2 separate regions of the Homo sapiens genome follow, and region 1 is linked to region 2. The links come from fine-mapping of genetic effects on gene expression. A gene starts in region 2. The other region holds a variant in brackets. All regions are shown on one strand. Distances are from middle to middle.

What was found. PIP is the estimated chance that this variant, and not a neighbour inherited with it, causes the effect.
Region 1: its variant is the best candidate, but not a certain one, in a credible set for the expression of IDH3G in lung (TOPMed, PIP 0.53).

What each region holds. Positions count from the first base shown.
Region 1 is chrX:153,769,319-153,774,666 of GRCh38, reverse strand. It overlaps PLXNB3 (plexin B3), which reads right to left. Exons shown (of 36, transcript NM_005393.3): 7 at 4,728-4,860; 8 at 4,419-4,575; 9 at 4,221-4,329; 10 at 4,025-4,139; 11 at 3,784-3,909; 12 at 3,586-3,702; 13 at 3,264-3,357; 14 at 3,012-3,181; 15 at 2,652-2,803; 16 at 2,380-2,485; 17 at 1,651-1,781; 18 at 1,261-1,437; 19 at 954-1,149; 20 at 569-808; 2 more. Among named protein-coding and RNA genes, the nearest start is that of PLXNB3-AS1, 5.5 kb to the right of the region's middle. The variant C/G (reference allele first, on the strand shown) is at 2,123.
Region 2 is chrX:153,791,726-153,797,083 of GRCh38, reverse strand. IDH3G (isocitrate dehydrogenase (NAD(+)) 3 non-catalytic subunit gamma) reads left to right here and starts at 2,709. Exons shown (of 13, transcript NM_004135.4): 1 at 2,709-2,838. The coding sequence starts at 2,758. SSR4 (signal sequence receptor subunit 4) reads right to left here and starts at 2,416. Exons shown (of 6, transcript NM_006280.3): 1 at 2,330-2,416; 2 at 532-650. The coding sequence starts at 2,396. RefSeq lists enhancers at 2,460-2,719, 2,619-3,346 and a silencer at 3,010-3,159.

The DNA of each region.
Region 1 (5,348 bases), 22 kb after region 2:
CAGCATCAGCCAGGGCCGGGGCCAGGCCAGCCGCCTGCCAGGGCGCCCTTGCCAATGGCGAGGAGGGAAGTGTGCTGGGGGTGGGCGGGTCTCACCTGTACATGAGGGTGAGGAGGAGCACGGCGGCAATCAGCACTGCAGCACCCATGCCCACGCCTGCCTGGGCCTCCACGGGAAAGGCAGACAGCGGGGGTTCAGCCTCGTACTGCACAGGGCCCAGGGCCAGCTGCACATTGCCCATCTGCACCTGGGGGGCGGGCAGGGTTCCTGAGTGCATGCTGGCGGCACCCGGTCCACCTGCCCACCCAGGGCACGGACTCACCACGAACTGTGGCAGGCCGGAGCCATTGGCAGGCTGCGGGGCGTGCGCAGGCGGCTCGCAGTACAGGTGGGTGCGCGTGAGCGTCTTCACCAGGCACTCGCCGCGGCCGATGTGCACGCGCACCTCCTCCTTGCTGATGCCCAGGTTGAGGCCCTCGCCCTGGGACACACATGGGAGCCTAAGCCGCTGGCCCCCACAGAGGCGGCCTGAGCACCGTGGCGGGGCAGGGTTGAAGGTGGCCCTCACCTCCACATCCAGGACATGGCCTGGCTTGAGGCGGTAGGGGCGGGCAGGCCCCTCGCGGCTGAGGGGTGCCAGGCGGGGGTTGGGCTGGTACAGGAAGCCCTGGCCCCCACTGGCACTGGCGAAGTCCACTTGCACGTTGTCTAGGGTGAAGAAGACCCGCTGCGGGTGGGCTCTGTCTGGTACAGCAGGGCTCCGGCACAGGAGGAGGCTGGACGAGTTGACGGAGCAGACGGTGGAGCACTGTGGGGCATTCAGGGCCGACCACAGGTGGAGTGAGCTGGGCTCTGCTGTGCGCTGCTAGGGGCATGGCGGCCTACCCTCCTCCTCCCCACTGGGCATGGGCATGGTCGGGGACAGCCTTGTCGCCTGCTGGTGAGGGGCTCACCTGCAGCAGCCCCCCACCGAGCTGGATACAAGCCTGGGGGTCCGCAGCAGGGGCTCCACAGCTCCTCCTTGGCTGTGGGTCCTGGGGCTGGGCCCTGGAAGCCTGCACCTCTGCGTCAGCCTCCAGCCACACAGACAGTAGGGGCCGCTGCACCACGTCTAGGCCGGTGCCCCTGACACGGATCAGTCGCCCACCCCTGTACCAGGATGGCAGTCGGGTGTGGGCGGGCGGTGGGCAACATAGCCCAGCCCGCATCCCACCTTCCCTCCTGCGTGGTGCACAGGCTGGCCTGCGGGCTGACCCTCACCCCCGGAAGCTGGCACTGGGCTCCGCCGCTACAAGCTGGGGGTTGGCGGTGTAGCGGAAGGGGCTGGCGAGCAGTGTGCGCTGGGCATGGCCAAAGACCACAAGGACCGCTGCTTCTCCTGGGGCAGCCTGGGGCCTGGTACGGCACACGATGGCCTCCGGACACACTGGCTCCAGGCTGCAGGATGGGTAGTGGGGTCTCTCATCTCGGCTCTACCACCCCTCTACCCCAGCCCTGGCCCAACCCCCGTAGGAGAAGCCCTGCTTTGCCTGCCTTGACAAGGGCAGGGACCACTGGGGGTGGCCACAGCAACCACTTCTCTAAATGTACCACCCCCACTGAGGCCTATGGGAGTGCCCACCACCCGACGGCAGCCAGGCCGGGACTCACATGGGACAGGGTTGGCCACCCACGAAGGCACTGGTGTTGCCACCTGTCTGGAGGTGCTGACCTCGGATGGTGAGCTGGGTGCCCCCTGCCTGGGGGCCCCAGCGAGGACTCAGGCTCAGCAGGACAGGGTCCTGGCGAACAGCGCAGGCTGGGTAGGCACGGCAGCCCAGCCTGGCCCTTTCACCCCCCTGGGCCATGCCCAAGGCCCTCCGGTTCTGAAGCGCAGGTCATCTCTGGACTTCACCTCCTGGGGCCAAAGTGGACCACGCCCTCCTTCCCGAGGCCACTGCACACTGGCCAGCTTCCTCCCACCCACCCCTGCCGCATGGGGAGTAGAAGTGGGGCTCTTTCATCCTCACTGCCACTCTGTCCCCCTTGGGACAGCCTCCTCCCCACCACAGCTTACAGCCCCCAGACCTGGAGCTCTAAACTCTCAAATCCAGTTGCCTCTTTGGGCAGAACCCACCCCTGC[C/G]CTCACTGCTCCTGTCCCAGGCTTCCCACCCAGGAAACGGTGCCACCAAGTGCCCAGGGCAACAGATCCTGAGAGCTTCGTGCCTCAGACTGGCCTGGCTGCCCACCTCCACTCACATGCCATGGCTTCCCTCCTAGACATGCAGCGGTGCTTCCTGCTCCCCGCAGACCCAGCTTGACATCCTTACTAGGCGCCTGTCCTTCCTGGCCCTCCCTCCTACCCTCCCCTGCGTAGGGCACACCTGGGAGGCCACTGACCTGGTAGGTGAAGTGCTGGCTTGAGATGCCTGGTGGCTGGCTCTTAATGGCCACCCGGACGGGCCCAGTGGTGCCATTGGGGGCAGGAGATGTCACACACACAATCCTGGAAAGCCGAGGCCTGGGAGCTGCTCAGGGCTCAGGGACGGAGGGGACAGCCCACCCCTCCCCTGACCCGAGTGCCCCAGGTTTCTTGGCCACAGGCCTTCCTTATCTCTGGGTGGCCATCTCTGAGGGCCTCCCCACCCATCTTCACCCTCCAAGTGCCTCACCGGGCCGACGTGCGGTAGAGAGAGGGCTCAGGGTTGCAGGGCCGGCTGGCCACGCTCACGGCGTACTGCACATCGGCGAAGGCCCGGCCCAGGTTGGAGCCCAGGATGGTGAGGGCCAAGCCTCCCTCAGGGGGACCGGTCAGGGGCTCGACCTGCAGCAGGCAAATGATGGCAGATGGGGTCCCCCGCACCCACGCTCCACTCTGCAGTGCTGGGTGCCCGGCCAGCCAACCAGCCCAGCCAGGCCGAGCTGCTGGGGTTTGGGGGCCTGGGGCAGGGCTGGTCTGATCACGGAGGACAGGACAGTGCGGGGCAGGAGAAGTGGGCCACTGGGCTGTGGGGGCCCGGCAGGAGACTCACTGCATCAATGCTGGGCGCAGGACACAGCAGCTCCACAGCCCCCGGCGGGCACAAGGGCCCATAGCGACAGGCAGGCTGGCCGTCAGCACACCACAGGCAGCCCAGGCTCCTGTTGGCCGCTTGGCAGTGGCTGCAGTCCGGGTGGCCCATGGCGCAGTCGTACAGGATCACTAGGGAGGGTCAGGCAGTGTGCTGAGCGCCTCCTGTCTGCCACCCACCCTGCCCCGCCTGCCTGGCTGCCCTCAGGCTCACCATAAAGAGCATGGGTGTTGTCCAGCCTCTGGGCTTCACCCTGGGTGACGTAGATGGGCACTGGGAGCTCCCGCTGGGACATGGAGGGATAAAACTGTGGGCAGAGTGTGGGGTCAGGCTGGGTGCCCACTCAGGGCACCTCTGACTCTTGTCTCCTCTGGGCCACCCCCCAGAATGAATGTGATTGTTCCCTGCCTCTCCCCCAAGACTGGGGCCCACAGACAGAGGTTATGGGCCCCAAGCAGGCTCTCCACAAAGATGGCAGACCCCTGAGGGTCTACGGAAGCTTGGGGGCAAGAGGGTTTGGAAGGCAGCCACTCACCTGGTGGGCCTGGCAGTGGATGAGGCCTGAATCCCCTGCTGTCTCCTCCAGGGTGGCCGGCAGTCCCCGAAGTTCTCCAGGCAGCTCCAGCCAGCAGTGGAAGGAGGCAGGCAGGCCCTGGGGAAGGACGCTGTCAGGAGTGTGGACACGCTGTTGGCAGACCTCACTGCCCTGTCCCCTTCCCTCCTGATGGCTCACTCGGAAATGTTGAAGGTTCCGCACGCGTAGGGCCAAATGGCTCTCCCAGCCCACAGGCACCAGGTGGGGACCTGCCAGGCCTTCGACCTGTGGGCAAGCCCCTGGGCCACGCACCTGGATGTCCACCTGGGAAAACAAGAGCCCTCAGCCCTTCAGAACTCAAAGGGCCTACTGCTGGGCGGGTCTGGGAAGGGTGGAGAAGGGACAGCCCTGTCTCTGCCCGAAGTTCGGGCCCACCCACCTCCTGGGCGCTGTAGATGGTCCTCTCGCCCTCTGGGCAGTGCTCTCCGTACACGCAGTGGCTACTCTGCGGGCACCAGTGACACCGCCAGATGCTGCCCACGCAAGCGCGACACCTAGAGGGGCAGGGTGGCTGCTCAACTGAGTGCCCTCTGGGGTCGCCACCCCTACCCCAGGAGGCAGGCCCAGGGACTCACGGGGCAGCCGCCTCCAAGGCCTGGACGGCACTGCAGTCATAAAAGGAGAAGTTGGTGGCAGCCACAGTCACGTCCTCGAACATCAGGGCCAGGGGCACAGTGACGTGGTCTGGGAGGGGACAGTGGGGGCAGGACAGGTCAGGTGGCTCATTACCCCTCCAGCCTCCATCCCAGCCCCCTACCCCATGGGCCACTCACCTGTGCCTGGAGGGTTAAGTGGCACCTGGTCTTGGGGAGGGGTGACACAGGCCACGTGGGGCCCTTCCACATGAGCCAAGCTGTCATAGTCCCCGAACGCACAATGGAAGTATTCATCTGCATCCAGGATGGGCAGCCGGGGGACAGACAAAGTGACCTGGGATGCAGCGGGGAGAAACCGGGAGATGTAGCCAGAGAGAGGGGGCAGCAGAGGCCATGGGAGAGGAAGGAGGACGGGAGGCAGGCGGGGTTCATGCTCCAGGCAGTGGTCATGCTGCCCAGAGGGCCCAGTGGTGGTGGGCGGCTTACCTGGCCCTGCTCCTGGCGGGGGTGGTGGCCCGGCAGCAGGCTCTGGATGTGCAGGCAGTGGCTGTCCTCCTCATAACTCCACAGCCACTGGTTCAGCTGGCCTGCCCGCCCGCACTGGCCCTTCCGGGTACACCTGCCAGGCAGGGGTCCATCAGGTCACCGTGGGGGTCCTAGACTCCAAGGATGACCGGCAACAGGGGCCTGGGGAGGCCGGCCCAGCTGGAGTGCAGTGGGGTGCAATGAGCAGGAGGCGTGAAGGGGACTGTGTCCAGAGAGAAAGGGGCCAAGCAGGCAGGGCCTCATGGCCAAGGCGTGGGCTCCAGCCCTGAGAGGCAGGTGCGGCTGGGCTGAGGGACGCACAGTGACTCAGGGCTGCCTTAAAGGATTCCAGGGGCTGCCGTGTGGAGCACCGGCTGGAGGACAGCTGTGTGGGGTTCTGGACCCTGGCTGGGGCTGCTGGGATGAGGAGTCCACAGGCCGGGTGGTGTCGGAAAAGGGGGGTGCCAACCAGATTGACGGCTCAGTGAGATGGGGCAGGATGGGTGACCTCCGTGGTGGCCCTGAGTCTCTCCAACAGGCAGGGTTGGCCTCCCGGCACGCCTAGGGCTACTTCCAGGGGCA
Region 2 (5,358 bases):
AAAAAAGGCCCCATTTCCTTCTTTGGACTTATGGGAACTTAGCTGGGCATGGTGGCGAGCACCTGTCATCCCAGCTACTTAGGAGACTGAGAGGAGAATCGCTTGAACCCGGGAGGTGGAGGCTGCAGTGAGCCAAGATCGTGCCAATGCACTCCAGCTGAGGCAACAGAGTGAGACCCTATCTCAAAAAAACAAACAAAAAACAAAAACAAAAACAAAACACCCACACAGACAAACTGGCCAATGGCAACCGGGGTGGGCTGACTCCTGGCCCTTTCTCCCGGTCCAGATACTCATTCAGGAAACAGCGGGTGGTGAGCCCAGGGTTACCTCGTGTAGGCACAGCACACAAAGCAGGTGAGGAAGGTGACCTGTCAACACTGGCTAGGATCTGGCATCACCGTGCCCTGATCTCTCCGGCACCCCAAGAGTTGGAATCTTGATTCTCCCTCTATCGACACAGGTCCCCCATCAACTAGCAGTGAGGAGCACCCCCCACCCGCCCTCCTGTCTGAAACCCCACTGTCTCACCTGGACCCTGTTCTTGCATGTCAGGGAGATCTCCACAATGAAGACGGTCTCAGTGGAAATGACAGCGTCAGAAGTGGTGTAGTAGGAAGGGGTGATCTGGGGCTCCAGGCAGGCCTCGGCTGCGGGGAAGAGGGAGAGATGCCTGGGTAAGGCCAGCTCGAGTATCCCGGTCTGAGGGCAGGATGGCCCGGCCCTGCCTCATAGCACGGATCAGCTGGGGACCCATGCGCTCTTCCTGCCCCTTCCAGGTGGGATATGCGAGACAGATCCAAGTGCTCGGTCACAAATGCAATGGCAACGTAGGCGGGATGGCTGTGAAGGAAGGCTGGGGAGGGGCAAGGCCGGCTTTCTGGAGGTGTGCAGGAAGAGCGAACTGGGGACAGGTGGGGGCTGGATTCACTGGACAATACATGCCAACACTTGGACCTATGACACGGAGGCCCGGGGGCCACGCCAGCCTCAATTCAGAGCCACAAACGGCCTGGACGAGTTACTGAAGGCATCCTCAGCAGAGACATCGGGGGTGGGGGCTGCAGGCAGGCAATGCACTGGGGCTTTCAAGATGAGAGAAAGGGTCTCTGCCCCCGGCCAGTTGACAGAAGGTGAAGACTGGCCCCAGCGTTTCCTGAAGAAGTAAACGGGAGAGACTCTGGTTCCAGAAGCACAACTTGTTAGCTGTGAGAGAAAGGACCTTGCCTTAGCCTTCTCCATAACCAGAGGCCCAAAGGAAAGGAAGGCTGCCGCCTACATCAGAGGGTGTGAAACAAAGGCTCCCCAAAGTGGGAATGTTCTCAGCCACCCGCTGTCCAAATGTGGTGCCCTGGCAGAACGATGGCTTCAGCAGAGGACGTCAGAGAAGGCTCTGGGTCTGGACCACAGGAGGCAGATCCCTAGGAACAGCGTGGAGGCAGTTCTCAGGGGCTAGATCCCGCCAGCCCTTCTGTGTCCTGCCTAAGTTGGGCCTGCTTCCTGTGGCGCAGGGGAGCCCCCGAAGGGTTTTATGGCCAGGCTTGTCCTCTGGATACGTCCCTGACTATAGTTCAGGGAATTCCTGAGGGGCAGATGAGGAGTGTGCGGAAAGGGAGGCCAGTTAGGCTGCCAAAACGTTGCAGGCAGCAAGGCTACTGGCCTGAAGGACGGCAGAAAAGGGAATGTGGAGAAAGCCGCCCCTGTCCAGTCCTGGCCCCCGGGCCCGGGGCTGGCTGCTGCAGCCACCTCCTAAACACACTCTGGAGTTCAGACCTCAGCCCCTCACGAATGCAAATCGACGGGACCCCTGGTCGGCTCTGCCGAAAACTCTGGTAAGGGTAAGGCAGGGCCCTCCGGAAAAGCCAGTCTTCGGCCTGGCACTCAAGGCCCTGCGCACCTTTGGCTCCCCATCTAACTCGCCCCGCTCTTGCTCCCTCTCCTCACTGAGGTCCCTTCCTAGCTTATGTGGCTCCTCCAGCCCCGTTTTTGGCCGCGATCGCTCAGCGCTACAGAGCTTCGCTCCGGTCCGACCCCGCAGGGAGCGGGAGCCGGGACATGTGTCACGTTCCGTGCTGCAGCTTGGGGGCCGGGCGCACCATGGAGGCTCGGGGACTCCTCTTCGTATGGGCAGACAAGGAAAAGCCTGGCTGCCGGTAAACGTGCGCGAGGTGCTTTGGTCCCCCCGTCCCAAGGCCGCCTGCCTCTCGGGGGAAGGCCCGGCCCGCAGCGACGGACCCTGAAAGGCCGGACCCCCGCATCCCTCCTGCCCCCAACACCACCTGCCGTGGGTCAGAGGCTCGCAAGAAAGAAGCCCCGGCTGGGCCGCTACCTGAGCAGCGGGAGAGGCTGGACAGCAGGAGCAGCGCCAGGGCGCCGAGAGATGCCATCGCCGCCATCGCCTCTTCTCTGCCTAGAGGAAAAGAAAACGAGCTCCCATGAACACGAGGGGCAAACGAGGAAGAGCGACGCGTAAGTGGCAGCGGCAGCCAATCGCGCACCGAACGGCTGGGCCGGCATTGTGACGTCTCTGGCAGCACTGACGTGGCCCCTCCCTGAGCCAGGGGCCCAGCTGGTCGCGGTCCCCCCCTCAACATGGCGGCAGCGGTGCTCTAGGCGCCGGAAGGGGGCGTGAATCGGTGCGACCGCGCGCGTGCGCAGTACCGGGTCCGCGCCTGTCCCCGAAACTTCGCACCCCGTCGAACTCTCGCGAGAGCGGTATCTGCGTGTCGGGACGTGCGGAGGCTCTCACTTTCCGTCATGGCGCTGAAGGTAGCGACCGTCGCCGGCAGCGCCGCGAAGGCGGTGCTCGGGCCAGCCCTTCTCTGCCGTCCCTGGGAGGTGAGCAGGGAAAGAGCCACGGGACCGCGGCAGCGGTCGCAGGGGAGCGGTGGGGTAGCCGCACCCGAAGCAGTCTGGAGTCCGATTGGCTAGGGGCCCCACCAGGGGCGGGGAAAGGGCTTCGCGCCGGGGTTGATTGGCCGCCTCCGCTGTCACTGAGGGGATTGGCCGAAGTTGGCCCTGGACCGGCTCCCCCAGGGGGTCTGCATCGGGTGGCGGGGGGCCCTCCGGACGGGCCGGGAGAGTGGGCCACGGCGGCTGTCACCTCCTTAGTGTCCTTGAAGGAGCCCTTCTGAGGCAGTCACTCACGTATCCCGGCCCGCCTTTCTCAAACCGCTTCGGGAATCCGGTTCCGGGACTCAAATTTCTCCACGGTTTCCTCTCTCGTGGACCGCTTTGCCACCTATCCCGGTGGCAAAGAACCGGACTTTGCCAGTCATCCCCCATAGTCCCCCAGTCTTAGAGCCCCAGATGCCTTCCCCTCGAGGCGCCTGGAATGGGAAGGAGCTAGGGTTTCTGAGGCTGCGGGGGTTTTGCTTCTGCTCTTCTCCGTGTGCGGTCTTGCGTATTCAGGTCCGAGTCTTCTTTCCTTACACTTATTTAAGAAGAGGTTAATTTAGGTCCTAGGTGGGCTGGAAACCATCTGAAGCAGCTGCCAGCCAGCACCTGGCCCTGATGGGTAAGAGGTTTGACCTCTAGGCCATGCTCCCACACTGAGCCACTGCGTGGCCTTAGGCCATTTCCTCCTCTCTCTGGGTTCTAGTTTCCCCTTTGGAACCCAGAGGGGAGGAGACTTCATGTTCTCAAAGGATCCTGTCAACTCTGACCTTCCAGAACTCCGTGACTTTGCGGCCACTCCCCAGGGACATCTCTACTTGCCATGTTTTCTCCTTCTGACCTCTGGGGGAGACTGCTTGTGCCTAATGAAATTCTCTTGACGATGCTGACTTCTCCCACCTTGCTGCTGAAAGGACGGCAGTATATAGTGGCTTTCCAGAGGCTCTGATGGCTCCAGCAACTGGGCTCCTGTAGGCTCTTGGTGAAGACATGTGTGCCTCCTCCCTGACCTCCCCTGTGTGTGTGCCTGTGTGTGCGTTGGGGTGGGAGTAGGGGACAGTGAACGGTGGGTAGCTGGGCAGTGCCTTGCCCTGAGACTGACCGTCCTGGGTGTGAGAACCCTTACAGAGGAACCCCAGGTCTTGAATCCCACTGATTTGGACGCCATAGGAAAACATGCAGCCACCATTGACACATGGTCCAACAGAAATATGCCAAAGACAGAAGCCTCAGCAGGCATAAGATGTGGGGTGTGGATGTTCTTTCTTTCCATGGAACCATGAAAGGGTGATGGGAGAGCGGGAGGCGTGTACATATTGCATCCTGCCTCACACTTGGCTCCTTTGATTGGTGGCTTCACAGGGAAGTCAGGGCACAAGGCAGAGCCTTTGCGACCTCCTGAAGGAAGGTGCCTGCATCTGTACAGTAAGGTCAGGGAAGTCCATCTGGAGCGCTCTCTGGGTCTTTTGCCAAAGCCCAAAGGAACACCTGGCACAGGGACCGGGTGGCAGAGAGGTTCAGCTCAGCCCTGGTGGTGATGTTGCCATCTGTGAGGGAGGTCCATGCTCTCAGGAGATTGGCTTGCTGCCACAGCTGAAGCCCAGGAGGAACTACTGCTGGGAGCTGCAGGGGTCCACCCGTGACCTCCCAGGGACACCAGCCTTGAACTCTGACCTGAGGGGCCAGTGGGGTGAAGGGGCAGGCGTGCTGTGTGGCACTAGCTACTGTGAGCAGCTCACACACCTCCTGTCCCCTAATCTTTCCAACAGTCACGGAAAGTAGGTACCTCCGTTCTGTGAATTTCAGATGAGGCCATGAAGCCATCTCAAGAAGAGTGGATGGTGGATTTGGACCGAGGCCTCCCTAGTCTCCAGATCTTTTTTCATTTTCTGATGTGCTTGTTCACTCAGGAAATGTTCCTTATGTGCCAGCTCTGGGCCAGGTACTGTGCTGGGTCCTAGGGTGACAGTATTGGACCACACTGACTTGGCCCCTCCTCTCGGGCTCAGGGGTTGAGGAGGGAGCAATGCAGTGATAACCTAGGGAAGGGGGTAAGTAGGGCCTTAGGGTCCCAGCTCAGTAGCCTTAGGGCATCAGGGAAAGCTCCCTGGAGGAAGGTCCATCGAAGCCGCTTTCTGCGTGCTTACAAGAGCCCCCAAATAAGATGATTTCAGATGTTGATAAGCGCTAGAGAGAAGACAGAAAAGTCCCGACCCGTTGATAAGCGCTAGAGAGAAGACAGAAAAGTCCCGACCGTGCCTGTGCTTGCAGATCCAGGTGCCACACAGATCAGCTGAGCTATCCTCGGGGCTCTGGTCCTTGTGGGCACCCTCTCCTAGCCCCTGGCTTGGACTGATGAGTGCCGGCCAGGGACACACAGACAGGGAGAGGTCAGACTCCGCCCGAGCCTTTCTGGACTTCTAGCTGGAAGGCATGGCTCTTTGGCCAATGGCTATGATGCTT